Regions from separate parts of the Homo sapiens genome. Here regions 2 and 3 are each linked to region 1. The links come from fine-mapping of genetic effects on gene expression. A gene starts in region 1. Each other region holds a variant in brackets. All regions are shown on one strand. Distances are between the middles of the regions. Region 1 holds the start of KCTD5 (potassium channel tetramerization domain containing 5). Region 2 overlaps TSC2 (TSC complex subunit 2). Region 3 overlaps KCTD5 (potassium channel tetramerization domain containing 5).

Region 1 (9,526 bases):
TATATATATATATATTTATTTATTTATTTATTTAATAATAAAAACCAAGTACAAACATGAAATGAAGACCGCCAGGCACAACCTCTCCTGACTGCACTGACCTGGCACCAGGTACGGGGCGGGGGCATCACATTTGTCATCTTCAGGAGAGGACGTCACAGTAAAGTAAGGACTTTACAGAGGAAGAAAGCACAGCTCACAGGGGCACGAAATCACCCCAAGTCATAAGGCAGGCCAGAGGTGGGCAGATTCCAACCCAGGCTCCCCAACTCCAAGGAAGATGCTCTGTCACATCAACCCCAGGCCAGAATGTTCTAGACATTCTGCAGTCCATGGAGAACTGCCGAGTTGACGCCCAGGGAGAACAAGCATGTCCTGGGAGAGAGATGGCTTGCTGGCACCTTTGCTACAAGGACCCCTCCCATGGCGCCAGGCAGGCAGGTTCTTCCCCAGGCTTTAAAGACCATGCCTGGGGACTGCTTACCTGGGGCGTGGAGGGGGGCTGCTAAAAGAACCAAAGTGCCTACAAGTGTCTGAAAAGGAGTCCCTGGGATGCCTGGTGGTTAACGACAGGGCCGGGGCGAGACCAGGCAGCAGGCGCCCCCATCACGGCCACAGCCCTGGCGAGGCTTTAGACCTCACTCCGTGACCTTTCAGAGCAAAAACGGCCACACACAATCCGTAAGCAAATGGGCATCTCTGCATTCCTGTAAAACTTTACTTGCAAAAACAGGCAGGTGGACCAGCTTTCTGACTCCTGCTCTAAACCAAGACTAGTCACTGCCCTGCTGGACGACAGCCACTGAAGGCTGTATCTGCAGGGCCAGAAAGAGGAACTGCCCTGCAGCGACAGCATTTCCTCCCAGCCACCCGCAGAAGTCTGGAGGCGAGAATGCCGAAGACCGCGGGCCCATGTCAGGTGCCCCGAAACAAGCTCTTCTCAGAAAGCCTCAAAACTGTTTTCTTTCATTCTTCCTAGGTAGGACTGAACCCATCAGAAACGTTCCATTTCATCACCAGAGTCGAGTCCTTTTCTCAGGAATTTATGGAACTGACTCGTGGCCTAAGGTCTAAAGGGCTTCAGGTGAGGCACCTGATAAAGAGGTGAGCACAGGTTTGCTGAGGACCAGCACCTGCTGCAGTGGGGAAGGAGCGGGGAGCCCCCAGCACCGCAGGGACCATCGCAGAGGTCCAGAATAGAAGATGACTTGTGGTCAGAGCGAAGATCGTGCTCAGAGCCACATCCTCAACTGAAGCGTGAAACAAAGTCCATCAGCGTCGCAGACACCCACTAACGGCCTCAAACTGAGGCCACCATAGCTCTCACCAGTGCTGGCTACACAGAACATCATCTGCCATCTCCACTAGACGTGATCCCCACTTCTCTTGCCAAGCGGCTTCAAAGACGGTACTCTAGCCCACACCCCATCACTGGGCCCTGTCTGAACAATTCCTTCCATAACTTTCCACCCCCGAGGTCTTGCCAACACCCAGTACACTGTTAGAGGCACCCTGACTGCCCCACCCCTCAAAGACCCATCTGATGCCACCACATCTGGAACCCTCAAGCCGGGACAACGGCCCTGTTCAAAGGGCAAAAGTTCACGTGCAGTTTTCTCCAAGGCTGCCTCAGCTGCAGGAACCGAAGCCTCCCCAAATTCTCCTCCATCTGAGTGGTTTCCAACCATAAAGCAGTAGTATTTCCTGTTTCCTTTTAACTCCTCAAGTATCTCCACACTAAAGCAGGGGCTGCTTTAGCTGGAAACAACAAACTCGACTTTGTTTTCAACAATGCCTATGGGCCGGGGACCATGCAATACAAGAGACCTAACCAAAATGAATCGAGTCTTTGGGAAGCCGTATTCCACCTGGCCTGCCCTCGAAGACACCAAGGAAGAGAAAGATGACAGAACAGCAGATGAGCAGATGCTGAAATGCTCACCACAGCCACAGTCCTGCTGGAGGAAGTCCCAGGAGGAAGTGAGAATTCACACCGGGCTGTCTAGAAAGAGAACTTTGTGGCAGCAGGTCGGCCCTTGGAACAGCAGAGTAAGGGCTTGGGAGCGTGGAGTATGGCGGGTGGTGGGTCCCAAGCTGGGCTCTGAGGACTTGGTTGGGGGCAGTCACAGCCCAGAAGCTTAGATGTGGGGCCAGAGGGCAATCAAGCCAGCCCCTTGATGTGCGTGGCTTTCACCACCCTCCCTAACAACCCGTCTGTCAAGAGCTCCCCTCCCTACCAGATAGGATGCTTTAGCAGGGTGCTCTCCCAACCTCTCAGGCACCCAAAGCTTCTGTGGTTTCTTGGGAACTCCTCCCCCTTAAATCTCCCCACCCAACTCCTCTCCAGACCCCCACACTCTGCAAGCCCAGGTGCTCACTCCACACAAGTCTAATAATCCAGGCAGGGACTCTTCCACCAGATCCATGCTTAAGTCCAACTCGAGGAATATTCTTTCCTTAATCTCAACTCTGAGGTCAGGCCTTGGAGATCTTTACAGGTGAATCAACATCCTGTTTGTCTTCCAACGTGTCATTAATGGCCTCCCACTCCTGACACCCCTTCCCCCCCTCCTCAGATTCCTCAGTCAGCATTTAATTAGGAGGAATCTCCTGGGACATTCTTTCATCAGAGCCACTGGAGACAAAACTAAGATGAAGCATTTTACACATTTCCTCATTTGATGAAAAACACCGGAAAACACTTTAGTAACGTGACTAATATGAATTAGCACTACACTTTTGGCAAACTATCTGTCACTAAAACTAACCTTATTTACTCCAATTATTGTTTTCTCCTTTTCTTTTTTCTTTTTTTTTGAGACAGAGTCTCGATCTGTCGCCCATGCTGGAGTGCAGTGGCGCAACCTCAGCCCACTGTAACCTCTGCCTCTCGGTTCAAGTGGTTCTCCTGCCTCAGCCTCCCGAGTAGCTGGGAGTACAGGCACGCGCCACCATGCCCAGCTAATTTTTTTGTATTTTTAGTAGAGACGGGGTTTTGCCATGCTGGCCAGGCTGCTCTCAAACTCCTGACCTCAGGTGATTCACGCGCCTCGGCCTCCCAAAGTGCTGGGATTACAGGCGTGAGCCACCTTGCCCGGCCCCTACTCCAATTATTGTATGAGACAGAGACGACTGTATCTGCTACTTTACCTTCATGTTCTGAATTTGAGTTTACCATTTGGAAATCAAACCTGGTTAAATGGATGATGATGAAAAGAGCAAGTATAACACAGATATATTCAGAAAGATTAATTACCCCTCGCTCAAAGAATTGATTCCTACAGTAAAGCATTTTTTTGTTTGTTTGAGACAGAGTCTTCCTCTGTCATCCAAGCTAGAGTGCAGTGGCGTGATCTTGACTCACTGCAAGCTCCACCTCCCAGGTTCAAGCGATTCTTCTGCCTCAGCCTCCAGAGTAGCTGGGACTACAGGCACGCGCCACCACACCTGGCTTATTTTTTTTTTATTTTTTTTTTTTTGTGATGGAGTCTTGCTCTTTCACCCAGGCTGGACTGCAGTGGCGCTAACTAGGCTCACTGCAAGCTCCTCCTCCCAGGCTCACGCCATTCTCCTGCCTCAGACTGCCTAGTAGCTGGGACTACAGGTGCTCGCCACCGCGCCTGGCTCATTTTTTGTATTTTTAGTAGAGACAGAGTTTCATCATGTTAGCCAGGATGGTCTCGATCTCCTGACCTCGTGATCCGCCTGCCTCGGCCTCCCAAAGTGCTGGGATTACAGACGTGAGCCACCGCGCCCACCTTTTTGTATTTTTAGTAGAGACCGGGCATCACCATATTGGCCCGGTTGGTTTTGAACGAGATCCACCTGCCTGGGCCTCCCAAAGTGTTGGGATTACAGGCATGAGCCACCGCGCCTGGCCCATAATTTTTAACAAAGTCTTAAGGAACAGTAAAGCAAAGGGATCAACCACCTTAACTGTGCTAAAGTTCATCAACTGGGAATCAAGTGCTCCAGTGCTGAATAGACAACCATTGCCTCAAAGAACCCAATGGACAAGAGCAATTTAAACTCTAATTTCATATACAAAACAGGAATGCTTGAGTAGAAAGGCAAGGGAGTGACCACTAAGCCCTGTTATTTAAAAAGAAAAACCAAACAGTAAAACATACACCCACACTTATAAAAGGAAAATCACAGCTAACAAACGCCTATTTCTATCCTGGGGATGACTGTCATTTCCTGGGAGGTCAATTCTCTGAGTAGAGGGCTTGGTCAAATGAGCAATGGAAACAGTTGGAAGTTGTGGGGAGGCACAGGAGGGTTGGCATCTCAAACCCTCATTTCCACCCACAAGGCTGCCTTAGCAGTAACTCCAGATTCTCACTTCCTGATCACGGTCATGCCATGCTGAGAATGGTCTCAGTCAGGCTTCTCAAACTTGAAGAGGGATCCGAACCTTTCTGGGAAGCCTCCTGCATGGCAAATGTTGGCTGCCAAGGCACAAAGCCAAGCGCAGTCATGTAAGCTCAACTGAAAGACCCCGCAAAGTTAGTATAAGGCTTGTGAACTGCCTTGAATAAATATAGGTAACAACTTCTTCAAACAGGCTTTTTTGTGAGTTTCAATCCTGCACAACTCCCAAGACACGGTTCCTCGGCTCCACAACTCTTGATAAATAAAGGTAGCAAAAGGTTTCTATTACCATCTACCCAACAGCATGAGCATTTCGCTTGATGAAAGACAAGCTGCAAACTAACCTGGAAATTCCTGTCCTTTTGCGAAGACAGTGGGAAAACTAAGCCAATTAGAAAGCAGATTGAAAGATTCCTTACCTGACCCTTCCTGGACATCCCTAAAGCAACCCTTAATATGAGCAAAATCCCCTTCGAAAAATCATACTATATACTACGGACGCATCTTCTAAGAGGTGCTGAGTGGGTGCTGCGTGCTGTGGATGGAAAGGATGGAGCGCCAACTCTCTAAATGCAAGTCACCAGGGAAAAAAAGGGCCGCCCATATCAACCCCCACGTCAGCGTTAATTCAAACGTCCAGAATGTGAAACAACGCCAAGGGTTCTGTTTCCAGAGCCAGCAAGTACCCTGGGACAGAGAAGAGAAGGCGTTCACACACCCTGGGCAAAAGAACCTAGTGAGAAAAAGAAAGTAGAATCACAGCAAAGTCCGGGGTCTAGGAAGCCTCCTCCACCAAAGAGCAAAGAGGGCGAGGAAGAGACACCCCCAAGGTGAATCGACTCAGGATCCTCAAAGGCAGTGGACGCCAGGGCGCCATCCTCACCCTCCCCTCCCAGGGTAGGGGATCGGGGCAAGCTGGGGAGGAGCTGGCGACAAGGGAGCGCGGGGCTCGAAGCCCGAGGAGAGTCGCCCGCTCCCGCTGAAGTCTCCTCCGCACGAAGCAGGGCGTGTGCAGGAGCCGCAGGCCGGGAAGGCCAGGACCCTCCGGGCTGGCCCGTGAGGCCCTCACCTTGTCTGAGTCCAGGTCGGGATCGGCCTGGCATAAGCGGTACAGGAAGGATTTCGGGTCCCGGCACAGGGTCTGCCGAGTGGTGAGGAAGTAGGTGCCGCCGACGTTGAGTCGGACCCACTTGGACACGCTGCCAGGGCGCTGGGCCAGGGCGCCGAGCCCAGCGCTGCAGCGGCGGCACAGGCCGCCCCCCAGCCCCGCCCCGATGCCGCCCCGGGCCGGCGACAGGAGCTCGCAGTGATTCTCCGCCATGATCCCAGCAAGCCCCGCAACAGCTCCCTTCCACCGGAAGCGTCCGGCTTTTAATAGCGTCCTCTGAGTTCTGTCCCGCCCACAGGTCCGCCCTGGTAGAGCGCCCGCCCCGGCGTCACGCGGTAGGCGGAAGTTCCGGTCCCGAAAAGCAGGAGGCTGGGCCCGCTTCCGGCGGGAGCGGAGCACGGGGTGATCTGGGCACTAACGCTGATGGGGAGCAGCGGACATCAGCCTCGACCTCCCACGAGCGGTGCACGAGCGCCTGACCCAGACCTCGACCCTAGCCTTCACCCCCACCCTGACTCCAGTTCATGAACTGGTCAAAGGAAGAGCCATGCCAGCAAACGTCTACACTGTACATGCTTTTTATTACAAGACTACGGAGCATAGGAGGAAAATTCATCATCTGGTAACTACACCTAAAGCACAAATATTTGGGGGGAAAAAAAGAACAGATTCATTAAATTATATGATTAAATCATTGACCCAATAGAAAATTTATATAATAAGGGCGGGGCCTGGTGGCTCACGCCTGTAATCCCAGCACTTTGGGAGGCCGAGGCGGGAGGATCAGGCGGTCAGGAGATCGAGACCACGCTGGCCAACATGGTGAGGCCCGGTCTCCACTGAAAATACAAAAATTAGCCTGGCGCGGTGGTGGGCGCCGGTAATCCAAGCTACTCGGGAGGCTGCGGCAGGAGAATGGCGTGAACCCGGGAGGCAGAGGTTGCAGTGAGCTGAGATCTCGCCACTGCACTCCAGCCTGGTGATAGGGCGAGAGTCTGTCTCAAAAAAAAAAAAAGAAAGTTTTTGTAATAAAGCCAGAAAAAAGTTGTAAAATATATAGTAATTATTCACATTCAAGGCTGTATATCAATACATATAACAACGTGGCCCCGAACATGAATTCAATACAAATAATTCATATATTAGAATTTAGGCCGGGCGCGGTGGCTCATGTCTGTAATCCCAACACTTTGGGAGGCCAAGGTGGGTGGATCACGAGGTCAGGAGTTCAACATCAGCCTGGCCAAGATGGTGAATCTCCGTCTCTACCAAAAATACAAAAAATTAGCCAGATGTGGTTGTGGGCGCTCGTAATCCCAGCTACTCGGAGGCTGAGGCAGAGAATTGCTTAAACCCAGGAGGCGGAGGTTGCAGTTAGCCGAGATCAGGCCACTGCACTCTAGCCTGGGCGACAGAGTGAGACTCCGTCTCAAGAAAAAAAAAGAATTTAAATAACAGGCTGAACTAGAGGCCAACAATAGCCAGCAAATAACCTTCTATAAGATTAAAAACACAAAAGTGTATATCCTAATACCATTGTATTATTTGTTTTCATGAGTTCTTTTAATTTTTGCTTTGTCTGTACATCACAGTTACAGCTACAGACCAGGTAGAGAATATTACGCATGTTCTGACTGCCACCCACCTGAAAGACGTACTAGTCATTTATCCTATTTCATGTTGTGAAGGAACAGCTACAGCAGCTCTAAATACTGTAACAATTTAATTTTGCCAACATCCAACTTAACAGTCGTAATAGAGGCTTTTACCAGCACAATGACCCCTATTCGTAGTCATTCTGCCAGACGGTTAGGCTATGTGGGTTACACAGCTTAAAAAAGGTCTGCCTTTTGTAAAAAGTTCTCTGTACATAGTTTGGTGTTTCTTCATATGGAAGAAATGAGTTATGGGGAAAATTCAGGTACACACGTAGGCTCGTTCAGTTGCTCACCACAGCCATCTCAACAGATGAAAGTGCTCTTTGTTGGAAACAGCTTCCTCCTCACACCAGTTCTCCACAGGCAGCCTCATCTACAACCCTGCAATTTTGGGCCAGAAGTGGTGGCCCCTCAGAGGCTCTGAAGTGCCTCCAGCCCCGATTCAGGCACTTGCCACGTGTGCTGCGTAAGAAGGGACCCCACCCAGTGAGTCAACATAGGCTCATGTCAAGTTTGAAAATAACTGGGGAAAAGTGTATGACAACATCTTCCAGAACATAGTACCTTCACCGTATTCTCACAGCAGCTGCGATCTCTGAAGTCTCAGCAGTGAGCACCCCGGGTCTGTCAACCAGCCAGGCAAGGGGGGGCCCTCAGGCTTCAGAGGGCAAGAAACCAAATTCCGTGCAATTTGGCCATAATCTCTGGTAGAGTGAAGCAGCACTGAACGCAGTGCCTAGAAAAACCTCCTGCACGTTCCCCTGCACAATCAATGGACCCCAACTACAGTGGAGAAATGAAGAATCCAACCAAATTTGGGTGGTCTGGACTTGCTGCCAGCCAGGCAATCTGCAACACTGTGGGCAGGGAGATGGGGGGAGGCGGCCTGAAATCTACACCAGCTGGGACAACCACGCCCTACAATGAAAAAGCCAGCCTGGCTGCTGGGCTCTTGTGAACCACTAAGACCTGAAGGTGGGGGGGTGGAAGGGGGAGACAAATGCACTCTTGTAAAACCCAATCAGCTACGTGGTTTTTTTCAAGTAGAGGCTTTGCTCTGCTACTGACTCCAAATGGCCTAATGTACTTTCTGAGTCTATAAACTTAATTACAGATCACTCACTAAGCATGTGGCAAGGTCAGTTCAACACTTGTTATCTCTGCTGACTGCGCAGTTGCAAATTCAATACCATTGTGGACATGAAGTACAAGATTCTGAAAATATCGCCAAGCGCTTGAAAGCCACGGCAGCAGGGAGGGCAGAGAGCTGACATGCAGGCAGAGCCAGGTTCTTGCAACCAAAACAAGGAAATTGGCTCTTGGAAAAAATCGGCCACAAATGGATTGCAGTAGTGACATCCTCTTAGCATTTAAATAAAGAGCGGTCTTATTCAGACATTCTTTGGAACACACGGCTTATCAGAAACCGATTTGTTCAGAATCTGTAAGACACAACTAAGGTGGTTCTGCTACTGGAACTGAGCGTCTACACATCAGGTCGAGAGAGAGACAGAAATATCTTCAAAATGAACAAACTCTTTCACCTCAAAATACCACTTCCAGGCATCTAAGGGGAAAAAAAGTAAGAAATCAGAAGATTTTAAAGATATTCATCACAGCATTATTTAAATAGTGGAAAAATCAGAAACCGTCAAGTATTTTACAGTAGGGAAATGGTCAGATAAATTATAGTAAATGGACAATGACTAAATAGTACAATTGTTAAAAACATGTTTCTGAGAAACTCATGACATGGGAAAATGCTTAAAATATCAAGGGAGAAGACGATGCAAACGGTGTGTGTCGGATGTTCCTATTTTAGTTTAAAAAGTGAACAAATGGCAGGGCAGGATATACGGCAAAATGCTCACAGTGGTCTTCTCTGGCCGGTGAGCCTACAGCTGATCTTGTCAGAGACAAACGTTAGTTTTACTGAGTCACCCAGAGCCCTGTGCTGGTGCCTGAGGGTTTGTTCCATGGGACAGTCTCCACAATTCCTCTGGGGAAGGGCCACAAATCCCACAGTGTGTCCCAAGAGGGCTGGAGTAGGCGGAGTCCCCAGCAGCTGTGGCATGACCAGCCATCTCTCTCAAAACAATTGTTAACAAGCCTTCTGCAAGTTAAGGTTCCACATGGTAGCCGTGGTACAGAGGCATTTCTCTAGGGTGGAGAGGCTTGTGCTCTACACCAGGACTGCCCACCGCCCTGGCTGGGGCCACACAAAGAGGGGAGAAAGGAATCCCTCAGAAGCCAGCCCCCAACTGTGTCCCAGAGAAAGGCGGGGCACCTGGGACACCTAGGCCGGCAGCGACCACAGCCTCCCTCCACTTTGTGCCGAGAAGCCGCACAGTGTGGTCCCGACATTCCACCTGTCCTTGCCCATGTG
Region 2 (8,000 bases), 620 kb after region 1:
GCCACTTCCACTTAAGGAACAGGAAATGTATTTTCGCTTCCTTATGATTTTTTTTTTTTTTTTTTTTTGAGACGGAGTCTTTCTCTGTCGCCCAGGCTGGAGTGCTATGGCACGATCTCAGGTCACTGCAACCTCCACCTCCCAGGTTCAAGTGATTCTCCTACCTCAGCCTCCCGAGTAGCTGGGATTACAGGTGCGCACCACCGCATCCAGCTAATTTTTGTATTTTTAGTAGAGACGGGGTTTCACCATGTTGGTCAGGCTGGTCTCGAACTCCTGGCCTCATGATCTGCCCGCCTCGGCCTCCCAAACTGCCAGGATTACAGGCGTGAGTCACCATGCCTAGCATCTTAACAGCATTTGCTTTTCTCTAGCTTACTTCACTGTAAAAACACAGAATACATAAAACACACGAGCTGTACATTAATAGACTGTCTGCTATCAGCAAGGCTTCTAGTCAACAGAGGGCTGTTGGTAAAGTTTCTGGGGAGTTAAAAGTTAGATGGGGATTTTCACCTGCACAGGGGCTGGCACTCCCAGCCCCATACTGTTCAAGAGTCAACTGTGTTACTTTTCAATTATAACAAAAGAAATGAAAACAGGCCAGGCACGATGGCTCACGCCTGTAATCCCAACACTTTGGGGGTCTGGGGTGGGTGGATCACTTGAGGTCAGGAGATTGAGACCAGCCTGGCCAACATGGTGAAACCATGTCACTACTAAAAATACAAAAATTAGCCAGGTGTGGTGGTGCGCACCTGTCATCTCAGCTACTCAGGAGGCTGAGGCAAGAGAATTGCTTGAACCTGGGAGGCGGAGGTTGCAGTGAGGTGAGATCGTGCCGCTGCACTCCAGCCTGGGTGACATAGTGGTGAGACTCTATCTCAAAAAAATAAAGAAATGAAAGCAGCCAGAACCAGGACTCTGCCTCAACTAGGAAATATCTCAGTTCTGCAGCCCAGACCCTCAGGCCTCCAGGGCTGGAGTTCCAAGTAAGGGCAACAGAACCTCTTTCCTTCCCTCTGCAGAAGCAGAAAGGTTCTCAGTTCTCCCAGGCCATAGGCCCCCACAGCCCAGCACACCCCTTCCCAACCAGTCAGTAAAGAGCATGGTGCTCATGTGGATGAGACACCAAGGAGGTGATGCCTGTTTTTGCTTTGTTTTGTTTTTGAGACGTTGTTTCATTCTTGTTGCCTAGGCTGGAGTGCAATGGCGTGATCTGGGCTTACTGTACCCTCTGCCTCATGGGTTCAAGTGATTCTCCTGCCTCAGCCTCCCGAGTAGCTGGGACTACAGGCATGCGCCACCACGCCCGGCTAATTTTGTATTTTTAGTAGAGACGGGGTTTCTCCATGTTGGTCAGGCTGGTCTTGAACTCCCAACCTCAGGTGATCCACCCACCTCAGCCTCCCAAAGTGCTGGGATTACGGGCATGAGCCACCACACCCGGCTGATGCCTGGTTTTTAATCAAACACCACGGCCAGGTGTGGTGGCTCATGCCTGTAATCCCAGCACTTTGGGAGGCTATGGTGGGAGAACTGCTTGAGGCCAGGAGGTTGATGCCAGGCTGGGCAACATATAAAGACCCCATCTCTACAAAAAATGAAAAAATTAGCCAGGTGTGGTGACGTGTGCCTATGGTCCCAGCTACTTGGGAGGCCTCCGAGGCAGGACGATCACTTGGTCACAGGAGTTCAAGGCTGCACTGAGCTATGGTCACAGCACTGCACCCCAGCCTGGGCGACAGAGTGAGATCTTGTCTCAAAAAATTAATTAAAAAAAAAAATCATCACCACTTTCAACTTCCATGGCAAGAAATAAAAACCCATGACATATAAACATGACAGGAAATTGTTCTACCATCCAACATCTTAAGGATGAGCTTTTGAGCAAACTGATTCATACATTATATTTTACACGATACTGACACTGACAGTCACACGTAAGTGATGCTGTGAGGCTTTGAAAAGTAGAGGCAGGCCGGGCGTGGTGGCTCACACCTGTAATCCCAGCACTTTGGGAGGCCAAGGCGGGAGGATCACCTGAGGTCAGGAGTTCAAGACCAGCCTGGCCAACATGGTGAAACCCAGTTTCTACTAATAATACAAAAAATTAGCCGAGTATGTTGGCAGGTGCCTGTAATACGAGATGCTCAGGAGGCTGAGGTAGGAGAATCGCCTGAACCCAAGAGGCGAAGGTTGCAGTGAGCCAAGATCGCGCCACTGCACTCCACTCCAGCCTGGGCGACAGAGTGAGACTGTATCAAAAAAAAAAAAAAAAAAAAAAAAGATAAATCAGAACCCTTACATGCTGCTCGAGTGGATGGAAAATGGCACAGCACCAGTGGAAAACAGCCTGGTATCGCCTTGAAACACCAAATGCAGACTAAACCTAGGGCCCAACAATTCACTCCTAGGTGCAGACCCAAAAGTGAAAATGCAGGCCCGGCGGAGCCCTCGTAGGAGAAGGTTCACAGCAGCACCACTCACCGCAGCTGCAAGGCGGACACAGGCCAAATGTCCACCAATGGAGGAACGGACAGACAAAATGTGCTCCTTCCAGATGATGGAATACTACTCAGCCATGAAAAGGAGGGGAGCACCAACAGCTGCCACAGCCTGGACGGGCCTGGACACATGGCGCTGGGTGGAACAATCCAGTCAGCAGACAGGAAACTGTTCTACCATCCAACATCTTATGGATGAATTTTGTGTGATTCCACTTCCATGAAATGTTGAGAGTAGGTAAATCCACAGAGACAGGAAGCAGCTTGATGGTACCCGGGGGTACGGGAGCAACGGGGGATGGGAGCGTGTGCTACTGGTATGCTCAGGAGGTTCTCAAGCTGACTGTGGGGTTGGCTGCAGAGCTCTGTGAATTTACTGAAAACCACTGAACTGTTCACTGTGAATGGGTAAATTGCATGATATGTAAATTAAATCTCAACAAAACAGCTGCAAATATTAAACGGACTGCAGGGCAGGAATGGAGGGCCACCCTTACTTCCCAGGTGCTGTGCTGGGTGACGAGGGCAAGCGCCACGCTGAGGATGGTACATGGTTCCGGCCCTGACTCAGGAGCACAGAGACAAGCTCTGGTCAGGGCGTACAACGGGGCCTCTTGCATCCATCCCTCCACAAGAGCAGGAGGAAGGTTCTGCTGCCTGCTGAGACCACCGCACCCTCAGCAAATCCAGGGAGGGTGTGGGTCCCGCTGGGGAACAGACTCCAACACAACGCAGATGCAGCTGGTGGACGCTAGCCATGCGCGCCCCGGGAGCAGAGGCCTCGTGCAGAACACCCACCTGAAGGATGACCAGAAGCCCCAGGACGGCTGTCTTCACATCCTCCAAGGAGGCCGAGTATGCGGCCACATCCCTTTCTTCCAGCTCCGGGGGTGGGGAGAGGGAGCGGGCCATCACCTTTGAAGAGAAGGCCAGGACTTACACACAGGCTCATGGTTCTGAGTCAGCAGCCGTGAGAACACTTTCTACCACAAACACCTTTTTTTTTTTTTTTTTTTTTTTTGAGATCGAGTCTTGCTCTGTCGCCCAGGCTGGAGTGCGGTGGCACAATCTCAGCTCACTACAAGCTCCGCCTCCCAGGTTCACGCCATTCTCCTGCCTCAGCCTCCCCAGTAGCTAGGACTACAGGCGCCCGCCACCACGCCCAGCTAATTTTTTGTATTTTTAGTAGAGATGGGGTTTCACCGTGTTAGCCAGGATGGTCTTGATCTCCTGACCTCATGATCCGCCTGCCTTGGCCTCCCAAAGTGCTGGGATTACAGGCATGAGCCACCGTGCCCGGCCCTTTTTTTTTTTCTTTTTGAGACAGAGTCTTGCTCTGTCGTCCAGGCTGGAGTGCAGTGGCAGAATCTTGGCTCACTGCAACCTTCACCTCCTAGGTTC[A/G]AGCGATTCTCCTGCCTCAGCCTCCTGAGCAGCTGGGATTGCAGGTGCCCGCCACCACGTGCAGCTAATTTTTATATTTTTAGTAGAGACAGGATTTCACCATGTTGGCCAGGCTGGTCTTGAACTCCTGAACTCAAGCAATCCACCTGCCTCAGCCTCCCAAAATGCTGGGATTACAGGCGTGAGCCACTGTGCCCGGCCTTCATCTTTATTGCTCAAAAGCAAAGATGCCCTTTATACCCGAGTGACTGTGCAGAAACCAAAATGCATCTGAAAATCAAAGAGCAAAGCTGTTGGCTGGGCAGGGAGGACGGCAGGCCAAAGCCCCAGCCCCAGGTCTGGGCTCCAGCGTCGGTCCAGGAGGCCCAGCCCAGCTGTCCCAGAGTGTGACAGGACACCCATGTCCAGGACTTTCAGTCAGGACACAAATCCAGCAGTGGCAGGCCCTGCACAGGCCTCGGGACACCCACCCTGCAGGGAGGGGAGCCTCACCTACGGACACAGCCATCCGGTCACTCGAAGAGGAGGACAGAGGGCCCAGAGGCCATTGCTGCCCACGGAGCTCTGGCACGCTAGCACCCGGCCCCGGGTACAACGGCTCTCACCTTCTCGATGATGTCCAGCAGGCTGTTGAAGTGGTGTGTGTGGCAGCCCTCTGCCAGGTCCACCAGCAACTGGGTGGCCAGCTTTCGGACCTGGTGGTCTTTATCCTCGGGGATGTGGGAGAGCTGCGAGATGACCACTGAGTTAATCAGCTCCTCCTGCACAGGCACAAGGGAGGCCAATGAGCGCCAGCCCAACGAGGGCCACATCTCGTGACACTTCCAATTCCTCAGGAACCGACCCGCAAGCAGCGGACATGTCCCTCGGGACTTCAGCACAGCTGGGCAGAGAGCACAAGCACCCGCTGAGCGCGACTCAGAGACCCCGGGGCCCCTTCCAGGGATCCTGTCCAGCTCCTCGTTCAGAAGGCTGGTGAGCACCGCAGGGCGGCCGGGCACAGACACGGGGCCCACAACTCACAAGGAGCAGCCGAGGTGAGGCCCTGCCCTTCACTGTCACAGCCGAGAACCCCTCCCACATGGTGCTGTGCGTGTGTGCGTGAGGGTGTGTGTGGCTGTGTGCACGCGTGGGCATGTGCACGTGTGTGCCTGTGCATGCGTGAATATGCGTGTGTGTGCGTGCTGTGCTGAGGACAGCGTGAGTTTTCACAGAAGCAGGTAAAAAGTTCCACAGGAACAGAGACCAGGACAAGACCAGCCCTGATGGGAGAAGCCAGAGGACCCAGAGGAACTTCCAGGAGGCCCTTAGCTCCCTCAGACAGAATGCGGGATCGCAATGCCCAGCAAAGGGCAATTCAAGGACAGTGGACGCTGGGGAGAGGAGCAGAGTGGGCAGCTCTCAGGAGGGCAGGACTGCGAGGCTGCAGGGAGGAGTTCGGTGGGAAGGGACAGCCTCAGAGCCTAAGCTGCGCCTCCTGGGAAAGGGGTATGACTGGCAGGCACACAAATGTCTCTCAAGGAAGGTGGGCCTGGGGCCACAGAGCTCCCAGAGGAGGGAGTGGAGAGGGAGAGCCCGCAGAGGAGAGACCAGGCAGGGCTGGCGATCACGCAGGTGCACAGGGTGAACGTCAGGACTGAAACGGAAGACAATGTCCCCATGCAAGACTGGCTGAAACGAACTCACACAGAATTTTTAAGAGGCTCCTGTGTTGGGTGAAAACCGGCCGGAGCTCCCTGAGGGCAGGCACTGTGCCTTCCTTGCTACTTGGCCACGTGTCAAGGCCTGGCAGAGGCACCCAGGACGAGCAAGCCAGTGAATGAACAGGGGTAAACAGACCACGCTGGGGGCTGCAGAGGGTCCGGCAGGACCGAAGTCCCAGGCAGAGCCCGGCTCTGCGGGAGCACGTGCACAACAGAGACAGCCCGCCCACGGAGAAATAGCCCTGAGCCCCCAGCTGCGGCCGCCTGGACACGCACCTCATAGAACTGCCTGTTGATGAGCAGCACAAAGGACAGCACGTCCAGCACCTTGATGCGCACGGCGCCTCGGGACTCGCTCCTGCGGGACGGCAGCCTGCTGGGGCGGGTGGGGAGTGCCCGGCCACAGCCCCACACCAGCCCGTCTGCCTGGCGCAGGCCAGCCCGACTCTGGGTCCTCCCGCGGCCAGGCACACAGGGCACAGAGCTCTGCTTCCCAGGGAGCATCTCTCCAGACGACCCCCGAAAAGAGGGAGCCCAGTGGCGTCATGAGAGGACCTGTCCTGCTGGACTGGAAAGCAAGCTAGCACCTGCTCACCCAGAGCCAGGGCTCTCCAGAGGCAGAGGGGAGGGCCCTGCTCATCGGGCATCCTGAGACCCAGCCCGGGTGGGCCCCAGACAGAGACAGGGCCAGGCTCCAGGTGCCAGGCAAGGCTACAGAGGACCCCCTACCTGAAGAATCTCTCCATCAGCGCCTGCAGGTTCTGAATCCAGCCGTCCTTGGCCGGGTGGATGGACTGCGCTCTATAGGAGATCAGGTTCAGGAGGGAGGACTCCTGTCAAAAGAAGAGCCGGTGTTGCCCCTCTGCCCCTCCGGCGCTCTCCTTCTCCACACTGGGCTGCTGGTCGAGAGGCTGGTTTGCTGTCAGAGCCCAGCCGCCTCACAGCCTGCAGCCCACAGCCCAGACACAAAGGCACTCCTGGCAGCGGGGAAGACTTGTGTCCAAACCCATGGAAAAGCCTGGGCCCTAAGCTGAGTGTTCCTGGCAAAATGACTGCGGCCGCCTGGGAGCCACAGGACTCTACAGAGCCGGATGGAAGCTTGCTCCACACAGGTGGGAGGAAACTGATGGGTGGGCTAGCCCCGAGCTTGTTACCAAACACGTGCTGTGCCTGCCAGCCTTCCCTGCCGAGTGCAGAAACCTGGAAAGCAGGCGCCCACCTGGCCCTTGGCTTCTGAGGCTCAGAAAGCTGCACTTCACCCAGCACCCGGCCCCTCCCCACCAGCCAAAGCCCAAAGGCCCCACCCAGGAGGGGGTCTCACAGGCCTCTGGTCCGCACATCTCTCCACCAGTTCAAAGTATCTCTCCTGAGACCCGTGGAACTCGTTCTGGTCACACAGCTCCTCCACCGTGGTCAACAGGTCATGGACGATGGTCCTGAGCTCCGGGCTGTCCAAGGTCTGCAGTACCAGGCACGATGACACAGGCTGACTTCCACTCCCCACATGGACTTGGCACCAGAGGCCTCGCTACACACCCACCGCATGGAGACACCCTCAGCCCTCTCAGGCCGCTCTGGGCCGCATGGGGACAGACGCCCCCAGCCCTCTGAGGCCGCTCCGGGCCTCATGGGTTGAGACACCCCCAGATCCTCTCCAGGGGCCACCCTGACCCACGTGGCCCAGGACACCCCCCAGATCCTCTCAAGGGGCCACAGTGGCTGTGATGGCAGCTGCTGTTCCTGCCCGTACCCCACCCCCCAAGGAATCTTGGCTGTGCCCATGCAGCTGGGCCAAGAAGGAAGCTCGGGCAGGAGGGCCAAGAGTAGCCACAACTACAAGCCTTTCTTGCCTCTCCCAGGTCCAGCCTCTTTTAGAAGCCCCAGGCTATGACCTCTGCCACTGCCACCAGCGGTCGGGGGCAATGCTCTGGCCCAGCGACAGGCTCTGAGAGGACTTCAGTCCCTGCTAAGTCCCGGCGAAGTCCCGGCCTCCCTTCTGCTGCCTGGCCTCCTGTACATCACCCGCCCCAGGCTCCAGGAAAAGGCACAGCCCTGAGGCTGCTGGATACTAGCCTCGCCTCCCCAGGGCCCCTATGCTGATGAGCCCGTGTGGCCGTGGAGTCCTCCTTAAAGCTGTGGTTAACAGACTCGACTAATGCGGTCCTCCAAAGTCATGCGGAAGCCACACTGGCATCCCTCTGGGAACTGTGCCGGGGCCCACTCAGGCCACGAAGGCGGCCTGCAGGTCACTCTGCGGACTGTGGACAGCACTGGCCCAGCCCCGGCTCACCTACTGCATATTCCTGTCTGGGGCCTAAACGATGCACCACGTCTGGAAAAATCAGACCTGTCTCCGGTGGAAGGTGGATGAGCGCCACTGCGAATCACC
Region 3 (10,992 bases), 25 kb before region 1:
CCACACGCTATGTATGCCCGGGTGAGGCAGGTGGAGAGCAACCCCCTGTACCAGGGCACGGCCTCCAGCGCTGACGTGGCCCTGGTGGAGCTGGAGGCACCAGTGCCCTTCACCAATTACATCCTCCCCGTGTGCCTGCCTGACCCCTCGGTGATCTTTGAGACGGGCATGAACTGCTGGGTCACTGGCTGGGGCAGCCCCAGTGAGGAAGGTAAGGGGACAGGGCTGGGAAAGAATGGGGGATATGCCTCAAGAAGGCCCAGGACGGCTTGGGGACCACTCTGAACCCACAATCTTCCTGTTGCTATATTAATACATACACACGGTCTCTGTTCACACAGGTGGGGCCGAGGGGAGCAGCAGCAGACCCAGAAGGAAGAGGGGGTGAAGGGAGAGGGGGACAGAAAGGGCCCAGCCTGCTGCCTGGAAGGAGGGAGGATGTCTGCCCCACAGTGCCCTAAGCCAGAGATGGTCTAAACATGAGGAAACGACAGGCAGGATGGAGTGGTGGTTCCCGGGGCCGTGGGTTCTTGATGAGGAAGTCCGTTGAGCCCTGGGCTGTTCCGCCCCTCTCCAGACCTCCTGCCCGAACCGCGGATCCTGCAGAAACTCGCTGTGCCCATCATCGACACACCCAAGTGCAACCTGCTCTACAGCAAAGACACCGAGTTTGGCTACCAACCCAAAACCATCAAGAATGACATGCTGTGCGCCGGCTTCGAGGAGGGCAAGAAGGATGCCTGCAAGGTGGGAGCAATGTGGTGTCCATGGGGACTCAGTCCCCACCGCCAGGCCCAGGGCAGGGTGGGATCATGCCCCGCTCCATGGGCTATGCATTCAACCAGCTGAGCAGCTTGTTTTGAAAAGGCAGATTCCAGGGCCGGGTGTGGTGGCTCACGCCTGTAATCCCAGCACTTTGGGAGGCCAAGGAGGGTGGATCACAAGGTCAGGAGATGGAGACCATCCTGGCTAACACAGTGAAACCCCATCTCTACTAAAAATACAAAAAATTAGCCAGGCGTGGTGGTGGGCGCCTGTAGTCCCAGCTACTTGGGAGGCTGAGGCAGGAGAATGGCGCGAACCTGGGAGGCGGAGCTTGCAGTGAGCCGAGATCGCGCCAGTGCACTCCAGCCTGGGCCACAGAGCAAGACTCCGTCTCAATAAAAAAAAAAAAGAAAAAGCAGATTCCTGGACCCCACCCCAGAAGGATCAGAGTCAGTGGGTCTGGGGTGGGGCACAAGAAACTGCATTTTCAACACACACACACACCCTAGTTGATCTGGGGACACTAAAGAATAGGCACTTTAGACAATCGGACTGGCAGGGGATGGGGAGCCGGGCAGAGAGGCTCTGGGATGGAGAGAAGGAATCCATTGCGGAGCTACACACCTCCTGTGCGGCTGCAACTGAGTCTCTGGGAACTCAAGGTGGGCTCTGACGGTGACTCTGCGTCCCCCGCAGGGCGACTCGGGCGGCCCCCTGGTGTGCCTCGTGGGTCAGTCGTGGCTGCAGGCGGGGGTGATCAGCTGGGGTGAGGGCTGTGCCCGCCAGAACCGCCCAGGTGTCTACATCCGTGTCACCGCCCACCACAACTGGATCCATCGGATCATCCCCAAACTGCAGTTCCAGCCAGCGAGGTTGGGCGGCCAGAAGTGAGACCCCCGGGGCCAGGAGCCCCTTGAGCAGAGCTCTGCACCCAGCCTGCCCGCCCACACCATCCTGCTGGTCCTCCCAGCGCTGCTGTTGCACCTGTGAGCCCCACCAGACTCATTTGTAAATAGCGCTCCTTCCTCCCCTCTCAAATACCCTTATTTTATTTATGTTTCTCCCAATAAAAACCCAGCCTGTGTGCCAGCTGCCCACGTGGGGATCCTTGGGGGACCCCGGCGGGTGAGGAGCTGTGAGTTGCAGGATGAAGCCCAGGTGGGAGATGCGGAGTGCTCTGGTCATCTCTGAATCAGCAGAAGGGAGCTGCAGCTGGTGCCCGAGGCGAGGACAGCACCAGAGTATGGGACCCCTGTCACGGGCCCCGCACAGGAGGCCACCTGCTGCCACCTGTGCCTCTGTTCTCTCACCTTAAAGGCCGCCCCAGGGTTGGCACTGGGGACAGCGACGGACACAGGTGGAAAGAGCCTCAGGGCCATGCAGGAGCTGTGCCGGGGCGAGAGGAGGGCATGGAGGGACTGGCTGGGCGGGGGCACCTCAGCCTCCCAAGCCTGCACTTCCGGCTGCCCGTGTCTCGGGGCCACCCAACTTTTCTAAACCACTTCGGCAGGAGTGGGTGCCCACACCTGTGCTTTCCTGCTCCACTGCTCCTGGCACCCTTCGTCTCCCTGTGCCCCGGCGTCTCCCCTTGACCCTTGGCTCCTCTTCCTCCGCCCCATCCCTCAGTCTCCACCCCCATGCAGGAGTCCAGAGCAGTGCGTGGTGGCAAGGGGATTAGGCTGGACATGCACATCACACCCACACGCACCCGTGCACACACACACAGGCACCGTGGCCTGTACAGCGGCAGGAAGAAATCAGGCCCTGAGTGTCCACCAAGGAATCAAACCAACACCCACTCAGCAAGCAGCTGCTGGGGACACCGTGGGGAGCAAAACAGAAGGAATTCCCCGCTGGGCCCGACCCATCTCCCCAACGGCTGCCCAGTGGCCCCCGTGGGCCATTTCTTGCACTCCTCCAGCCCAGGGGTGGGTGGGCAGGTCTGGGGGGCCTGTGCGCACAGCCCCATGGGGGAGCAGATGCACGAAGCCCAGGTGGAGGGAGAGGCAGGCCCAGGGAGCAGCACTGGGTGGTCCTAGCCAAGCAGGGACTGGCCAGGCCTCCCAGCCTCGGAGAGCCCTGGGTGAACCTGCACCCTGCTCTGGGCTGTGCAAGGAGCCCCAGGCCCCCGTGGTCAGAGGGGAGGCTACAGGTTAGATGGTCTAGGGAGGGCAGCCCCTGCTGTCTTTGTGCTGAGACCCCACCCAGACCCAGGATGTCAACAGGCAGATGCCCGTGGGAGAGGAGCAGAAAACACTCTCTACAGAGACTAGGGGTTGAGAAGGGAAAACAGGGCTATTTCATGCAATTAACAGCTCCCACGAAGCATGCCGTGAGAAGGACGTTAGGAAGGGAATAGTCCAGGTTGCCACAGGTCCCTTTTCCATCCTGGGGCGGGGGTGCAGCTCAGACTTTGCACGCTGCTGCCAAGCAGGGCTCTGAGCCATCTGCCAGGTGGGCGGCAGCAGGGCCCCTGCCAGCTCCAGGAGGGACTCGAGGGAGAGCCTGGCACAGGCCCGCGCACATTCTGTGGCTCACAGGGAGGTAGGCAGAGCGGGCGGCAGCCTTCATCCCCAGGCTCAGCTGGCCCATGTGCACACATACACACACCATTCCCATGCCACTCACAGGCACACACAACACATGCATGTCACATGCCACACACAGGCACACACCACATACCAAGCACACACCACATGCCACACATCACATACAGCACACATGTGCATGCCACACACACCATGTGCACACAGGCACACACCACACCCACACCATGTACAGCCAGTAGGTACACACACACACACACACACACACACACACACACACACACACACAGAGCAGGAGCGGGAGCCCCAGGAAAGAAGTCTGTGGGCTCCATTCGGGCCAGAACTGCGGTGAGGGGTCAGCCACAGGCCAGGCCTCCCTGTGCCGAGCCCCAGGCCTGGGAACACTGGGGAGGAAGAGGTGGTCTGAGGGCAAAGTGACCCATCTTGGGGGGCACGGCTCAGTGCAGAGGTGCCGGAAGTCATCGTCCCTCACACAGATGCCACGTCAGGGCCTTGGTGGCTGCACTGTGGGGTCAGCTCTTCATCGCCCCAGCCGGCCACTGCCACGAGCTTTAGGAGGAAGGAGGGTGCTAGAAGTCCCTGCTGAGTGGACACCAATAAATGCAGGGATGTCAAGGAGGGTGGTGCCAGCCGCTGGAGGGCTCCAGTCATGGGCTCTACAGGAAGCCTGGGGAGGACGGGCACCCACGCAGGGCACCTGCATGTGCCCCGCCCCTGCCTCCTCTTCTGCCCCCACGCTGGCTTCCTGGAGCCACAGGGCTGGGCCCCAGTCCCCACAGCGGGCGGGCTGTGCTGGAGCCCAAGGTCTGAGGAGGAACAGGGCTCCCTCCCTGCCCAGCAGACCCAGCGGCCCTGAGCATCCTCGGCTTCAGGACCCAAACTGCAGGGCCTGTCTCCTTTACAGCCTTTTGCTTGGATGGGAAACCTGCTCCGGGCTTTGGCTGGGGACGCCTGCCACGCTGAGGCTTCTCCCAAGTGCCCACAACTCTACCTGGTCAAGGGGCTGTAAGGCCTAGCCAGGCTCCTGGTGGGAGTCGGGCAGCGGGAAGACCCCTTGGAGCAGAAACTGGGTCTCTCCCCTACTCCAAGCCCCGTGCCGGCCTCATGCTGGGCACCCAGAAGCCCAGTCACCCACTCCACCCCTCACCAGGGCCCTGGGGTCAGGCTGGGCCAGCCACACACCTGGAAACAGGATGGACAAGGCCACTACAGCCTGAGGCTCTGTGACCTCAGACAGCCAGGCCCTGGGGGACACCGTGAATGGGAATCTCCCTGCGGGGGGGCGGGGAGTCCAACAGCCAAGGCTTCGTGGAGCAGCCACCAGGAGGAGTCACAGCAGCTGGCGAGGGGGTGCCGGGACCCCAGGACCTTCTCGGGAAGCTCCTGCTGTCACAACCCAGGCTGCAGGCTAAAGTGAGGGAAGAGAGGTGGATGCTAACTTGAGGTATCAGGACTTTCAAAAAAACATCACTTGAGCCGCGCGCAATGGCTCACGCCTGTAATCCCAACTGCTCAGGAGGCTGAGGCAGGAGGATCACTTGAGCCCAGCAGTTCAAGACCAGCCTGGGCAACATAGCAAGACCCCTGTCTCTTAAGGAAAAAAAAAGGCCCTTGTACATGGTCTCCGGTCTCCCGGGATGGGGGTATGCTATCTGCTGGAGGTAGGTGAGGGGTCCAGGCAGAGTGGGGTGCAGGGATGGGCCGTGCAGCTCTGATCCAGTGACCCTGGCCAAGCCGGCACCCCGTGGATGGCCCAGCTCCGCCCTGGCCATCGACTGAGAGGCAGAGGCAGAGCCCTGAGTGAGCCGCCGCGGCCAGTGGGGCTGGGCGGCTTGGAGGGGCAGCACCTTGGTCCGAGCGACCCGGGGTGGCATTCCCCTGCATCTTAAGACCATAAACAGCTACTACGCGCATTCATAAATACACAATTTTATTTGCTATTTCCAGGGGAAACTTAGGCATTAAACTGTAAGCTGATAAAATACGATACCTAAAAAAGTATAAAAGTATAAATATCCCCTTAGAATAAATTTTAGTGAATTAAGTCTTAATATCTTTAAATTAAAAAAACCACAAGCCTATCTACTATGTCAAGGTCAAAAATCAAACAACGCTAAGCGGCCAGCAGCTCCCCAGAGAGGATGCCCAGGAGCCCCAGCGGCCGCCTTCCTCCCAGGCTCTGCTGGGGCTAAGTCTGCCTTCTAGAAAGGCTTTTATAAATTGTTTAAGCCAAACATTTAACAACATACAAGAGACCTTACAAAAAGAAGGAGGTAAGTCCTAATGCTGGAGAATTGGTTAATCAGGTGACTGGCAAAGAGGAGGATGAGGCCTAGGCAGGAAGTCTCCAGAAGCATTGGAAACCAGACAGTGTCAGAGCCTCTGACCTGCAGGCGGGAGGCCGGTGGTCAGTCTGCACAGTACCCCTTGGGAAGCCGGAGTTCCGGAAGCAAAGCGCTTGGAGCCCGCCCTGCACGCCGAGTCCCCAGACTCTGACAGGTCCCCACAGCCAGCTGAGAAAGGTCTGTTTTCAAAGCATGCGGGCAGCGGTTTCTAAAGGAATCCCAGCAGCTCCCACGGCATGTCGGGCAGAGCCCGTGCAGGTCGAGTGAAGTCCCAAACATCCCAGAAAGAGAGGGAAGGCTGCATAGTTATACAAAG[A/C]AAATGAGAGAGCGGCGAGAGAGAGGCATTTGTGATGCTCTGTAAACATCCCGAATTTTCACCGTGACGCAGACCTTCAGCTCCAGAAGCCAGTGGACAGGCCTCCAGCCCAACCTCTATGCCAGGCGTGACAAGGCACTGACAGACGCCAGCTCCCCGTGAGCCCGCAGTGGGAGGGGCGAGGCGACACTGCTACCTCGCGCTAACGGATGGAACAGATCAGTCTCCACGCGGCAAGCCCTGTGGGCATTTCCAGAGGAAAAACGCTGGGGAGTCTATCCACACAGAGAAGGGGTACAAAGTTCTCTTGCCTGGAAAATACAAATTGAGAAGCCTTGACTGTCCCGGGCTTGGTCAGGTGGGGTTGGAGCCCGTGTCAGAAGAAGGCCCGGCCTCGGAATGGCGCCGGGAAGCAGTGACGACGCAGAAGCCGCCTTTGTCAGGAGCTCTGCGAGGTCGAGAGAAACCAGCGATCCCGCCTGGGAGGCAGAGCAGACTCCCTGACCGAGACTAGGGCCTGGTGGTCGGACCAGAGGCCACGACGTGCTGGACACTGACGCGGCTGCGGCCGCTTCCTGCCAGTGAAGCCCAGGCTGCTTTTCCAGACTGTGTGTAGCACCAAGAACGCTTCCTTCACACGATCTTCAGGATCGAGCGGGCTGACTGGGAGTGTCTGCCTCAGTCCCACGTGGCACTTGGAAAAAACAGAGCGAGGCCCCCCCAAGAGGCAGCGCCCACCCGGCCGCCGTGCTCCCCCAACTTGGGGACGTCTGGCCTTGGACAGCTGGGCCCGTCTCTCACCACCCACCTCAGAGGCAAAAAAGGATTCACACCCAGATCTCTAGAAAAATGATCAAAAGCAGGTTTCTTCTCACAGCCAAGCTTCCTGGACATGGCAGTTCATTACATCTCGGGAAAACGTAAATCATTTCTTCAGCTGTCAATACTGTGTCCCTCACATCCTTGAGCCTCGTTCTTGCAAAATCTGAAAAACACCAAATGCATAAAATGAGGACTTGGGCTGAGGAGGTGTCCCTGACCAGGCGCCTGCTCCAGAAAACAGAGCCCACAGGCCTGGGGTTAGCTCGGGGAGCCCCGGGAACCCAGCGGCACTGGCCAGGGTCTTGGGGACTCAGCTGGCAGGCCCAGGACCTTCACCGGGGTGTCTGGCACATCTCCAGGCCCCACACAGGGAGCGCTCACTGTGCATGGCAGCCCCTCCCAGACCCACCCAAAGGCGCTGACTCTTGGGCCTCTCAGCCCACTCAGTCCTGGGCCTCAGACATGAAGCGCAACTCGGCCCGCGGGTCCCTCAGCAGTCCAGTCCCCCCTCCCCAATTAAGTCTCTCCCTCTGTTCCTCCATGCCCACTGCAGCCCCCACCCCCACCCCGACGCCCGGACCCTCCTGGAGATGCCCCTCACCCAAGCCCTCGGCCCTGCACCTCAGCCTGGCCAGCCCACCTCATGTGCTGGCCCCTCCCGACTGCCCCATGGAACAACCACCAGCCCTCAGAGGGCCCTACCCCAAGTGCAGATCACGCTGCGGGGATCCCCTCCTCATCTGTACCACGTCAGCCCTGCAGAGCCCACGGCCCCTCGGCCCCCTGCCCTCCCCACCCTCCAATCTCCTCAAAACTCTTCCTCAAGGTACCCTCCCCACTTCCCTCACCAGTGTCCAGGAACCCCCTGAGGCCACCCCCAAGTCGGCCTGGGCTCCCCTGAGGACAGGCTCAGGCGCTGGCCAATGCTGCTGAGGTGAACTCCCAAAATGAGCCATGGCAGCTCCAGAGACCAGGTGGAGGGGAAATCACCCCACGCTCCCGAGCAGAGAGCTTCGGAGCCAGCCAGCCTCACTGTGCGTGGCCCACAACAGCTGTCTCCATGTGTCACGTGAGGGCTGCCCAACACCAGGTAGGGCAGCAACGCCCACGCCCTCGCCGGGCACAGCCTCCCAGAGGTCACTGCCATGCCGCACTGACCGGAGAGAGGGCAGTGGTGAGAGGTGCATGCCACCCCAGGCTTGTTCCGAAGGCTCCTGGAGGCCACGTCCCCTGAGCTGCTCAGCCTGACTCCAATACTCCACCCCCCAACAGCTCTGCCGTTCCCAGGCGGGTGCCCCCCAGGCTCAGTGCCCTGGACCACTTCTAGCTCGAGGCTCCCACTCACTCTCCAGTGCCTCGGAGGAGCCCATCCCCCTGTGCGAGGGGCAGCACGTCCCTCCCTGGGCCAGGGTGATTCCCAAGTTTACTGGGATGTCTGGAGTTGACTTGGGGAGACAGTGCAGCCCCCAAGCCCCCACCAGCCCTGTGTAAAACTAAGTAGCGCAGCGGACAGGCCAGGAGCAGTGTGGCATCTGAGCATCCGGGAGCCCCAACAGCTCCCTCCTGATGAGGGCAGGAGACACCCTGGAGACCTGCAGCCAAAGTGCTGTCCTTCGCCCTCCCAAGGCCGGGAGCAGCACGGGCTACTCTAGACAGAGCCTGGGGTGAGACCCATCTTTTCTGGACACACTGTCTCCCTAGGCCATCTTCCACAGGAAGGTCCAACTGCAGACACCAACCAGGGGGCCCTTGAGGCTGTACCCCATGGCCAGACACCCCCACAGGCAGGCAGGCCCGGGTGGCTGAGGGGCTTGCAGGACACGGCTGGCCTGGGAGGCTTAAGCGCATCAGGGATGCCGCAGGATTTGGCAGCTGAGATAGGGGTCTGCTGTCTGCCGCACTGGTCCTGACCCCTTGGCCCTGAGCCTGTGGCCTAAGCCAGACAGGAAGGTCACCCACTAGGGCTGGCGGCACGAGTGGCACTCCCTGCCCAGCCCCCAGGAGGGGCTCTTGGGTTCACGACCACTGATGTCCACAGCCTGGCCTGGCACGGGCACCCTCCAGTCATCCCAACAAACGCCCCAACACTGCCCCTGGGCATCTGCCTCACAGCAACAGCCCCACCACCAAGACAGTGCTACTGAGGATCTACAGCTGGCATGGAGTGCGGACGGCTCTCGTCAACTACAGGCAGGGACAGACACACAGGGAGGGTCTGTGGCAAGGGTCAGCTGGGGCCATGGGGTCAAGGAGGCCACGGAGCTCACCATGACATTCACACTTAATCTGAGCCACTCCCTGGGTGCCCCTGGTCCTCGTCGTCACTCTGGCGGCGTGCAGCGCGCAGTGGGGGAGAAGACAGGCTGTCAGGACAGTGCGGGTGGGCGGGTGCCCCGGGCCCAAACCCCCACGCCCGGTGACCTTCCAGTGAGGCCACGCCACGAGGGGACACACAGGCTCAGGGGCTCTGCCACATCTCAGAGGTGGAAACCTCCACGTGTGAGGCGGCTGCATCTTGCGATCCGGGGCTGGTCCTGTCCCACCATGTGCTGAGGGGCTGAACCCTGTCCAGAGGCGCCTGGCCTCTGGCCCCACTCCTGGCAGGCGGCGCTAGCCCACAGATCTCGGCCTGATAGGAGGGCCTCTGCTGCGTGGGCTCTGTGGACCCCACTGCATTGGCCCCACTGCTGCAGGAGGGAGGGTGGGGCCCTGGGTCACAGGAGGGATCAGCCACGGGGGCAGGCGGTGGATGCACCCATCGAGCATGGCTACGCAATGGAGCCCCAACACCACCAAGGAACCCCCTCCTCAGCCGCCCAGGCACTGGGAGACCCCGGCCTCTGCCCAGGTGCCCGCCCTTGCTGATCTGAGCCTGTCTCTCTCTGTTCCTTGGGAATAAATGGCGGCCTTGAGTCTAAGCGCTCTCAGTGAGCTCTGCGAGTCCTTCTAGCAAGTTCTTGAGGGACTGGCGTGGGAAGCAGGTGTGCTCATGTGTGGACCGCCTTCACTTGCTACAGGTGCAACCCCTCCCGCCCCACCACCCAGGCTCTCCCGCCGCCGCTGACTGAAGTGGGGGACAGCTGCCCAGCAGGGCCAGGCCACACATGCTGCAGGGACACCAGCGACGAGGGCCCACAGCCCATGCGGCCCTGCGCAGCCCAGCCAGGGGTGCCCCCATCACGGTCCTCCAGCTCTGGCCCCCGCAATCCCCCACGGCCTCCTGAGGCTCTGGCCTGAGCTCTGCCTCCTGGGGCACTGCTGACACCACCCCCATCAAGAAGCCGCCATAGCTGCCCCACTTCAGAGCAGGTATTTTTGGAAAATGAAATAGGGCCACATTCTCAACCACAAAGGGATTTGGGGTCATGCCTGGAGCTTCCTCACAGTACAGAGCGTGTCCTTTCTGCAGCTGCCAAGCCACCTGAGGGATAGGAGCCCAGGGGAGCTTGGTTATAAAAACTCAGCTCAGAAATAAAAAACTTCTAAAAATAAAACCATTTAGAAAAGAGCCCTACGATTGCTCCAAGAGGAAGAGAAGTGCCTCCTTGTGACTGAGCTGGGGCTCTCAGGGAGCCAGGGGTCGCCTCCTAGATCCGAGACTCAAATGGAAGAGCATCTCCGAGCCTGGCGGTGGAACCCCAGCTTCCACCCCGGCTGTCCCACACCAGGGCCTGCCCCAGCCTACACTGCCTCGGCCTCGAGGAACGGCAGTGGAGCAGGACTGGCCTCTGCCCACAGCAAGAGCACAACGGGTGGCCAGCGAGGGAGGCTCTGGGCCAGGACAGTCGCCTGAGGTGGAAAGGCTGCCGTGAGCTGGCCGCAGGCCTCCGAGAGACATGCTTGGCGGCCCCACCCCTCTGTTCCCAAGGGCATACCTCCAAAGGCCTACTCGGAGAGGCTCACGGGGACAGTCCTGGGCTGCTGGTGGCCGGCCAGAGGCCCCCAGCCAAGAGTCTGCGGTTGCCCAGGTGTCCCTGGTTTAATGCCACCAGTTAAAAGCCTTCCGGTTCTGGCCTCTCATGGCACCCACTCAACACCCTTTGCCAATGCCCCGAGCCTTCGCCCCAGGCTGGCTCCCCACAGAGCCCGCCCCACCACCCAGGCTCTCCCAGACCCACGCAGACCCCAGCCAAGAGCTCTCCAGCCACCACCTGGCTCTGAGGTCCGGGAGTCCTGC

Evidence for each region.
Region 2: its variant is fine-mapped to the expression of KCTD5 in esophagus mucosa (GTEx, PIP above 0.99).
Region 3: its variant is fine-mapped to the expression of KCTD5 in whole blood (INTERVAL, PIP 0.99).

Annotation. Positions count from the first base shown.
Region 1 is chr16:2,678,718-2,688,243 of GRCh38, reverse strand. It overlaps KCTD5 (potassium channel tetramerization domain containing 5), which reads right to left and starts at 5,721. Exons shown (of 6, transcript NM_018992.4): 1 at 5,444-5,721. The coding sequence starts at 5,695. RefSeq lists enhancers at 773-1,062, 1,423-1,472, 5,039-5,088, 5,159-5,208, 4,753-5,363 and a silencer at 5,459-5,638.
Region 2 is chr16:2,060,941-2,068,940 of GRCh38, reverse strand. TSC2 (TSC complex subunit 2) reads right to left here. Exons shown (of 42, transcript NM_000548.5): 12 at 6,933-7,070; 13 at 6,341-6,444; 14 at 5,888-5,969; 15 at 4,514-4,669; 16 at 3,306-3,422. Among named protein-coding and RNA genes, the nearest start is that of TSC2, 17 kb to the right of the region's middle. The variant A/G (reference allele first, on the strand shown) is at 3,909.
Region 3 is chr16:2,703,284-2,714,275 of GRCh38, reverse strand. KCTD5 (potassium channel tetramerization domain containing 5) reads right to left here. Exons shown (of 6, transcript NM_018992.4): 6 at 5,246-6,978. The coding sequence ends at 6,949. It overlaps PRSS27 (serine protease 27), which reads left to right. Exons shown (of 6, transcript NM_031948.5): 4 at 1-211; 5 at 578-747; 6 at 1,462-1,854. The coding sequence ends at 1,656. Among named protein-coding and RNA genes, the nearest start is that of PRSS27, 11 kb to the left of the region's middle. The variant A/C (reference allele first, on the strand shown) is at 5,994.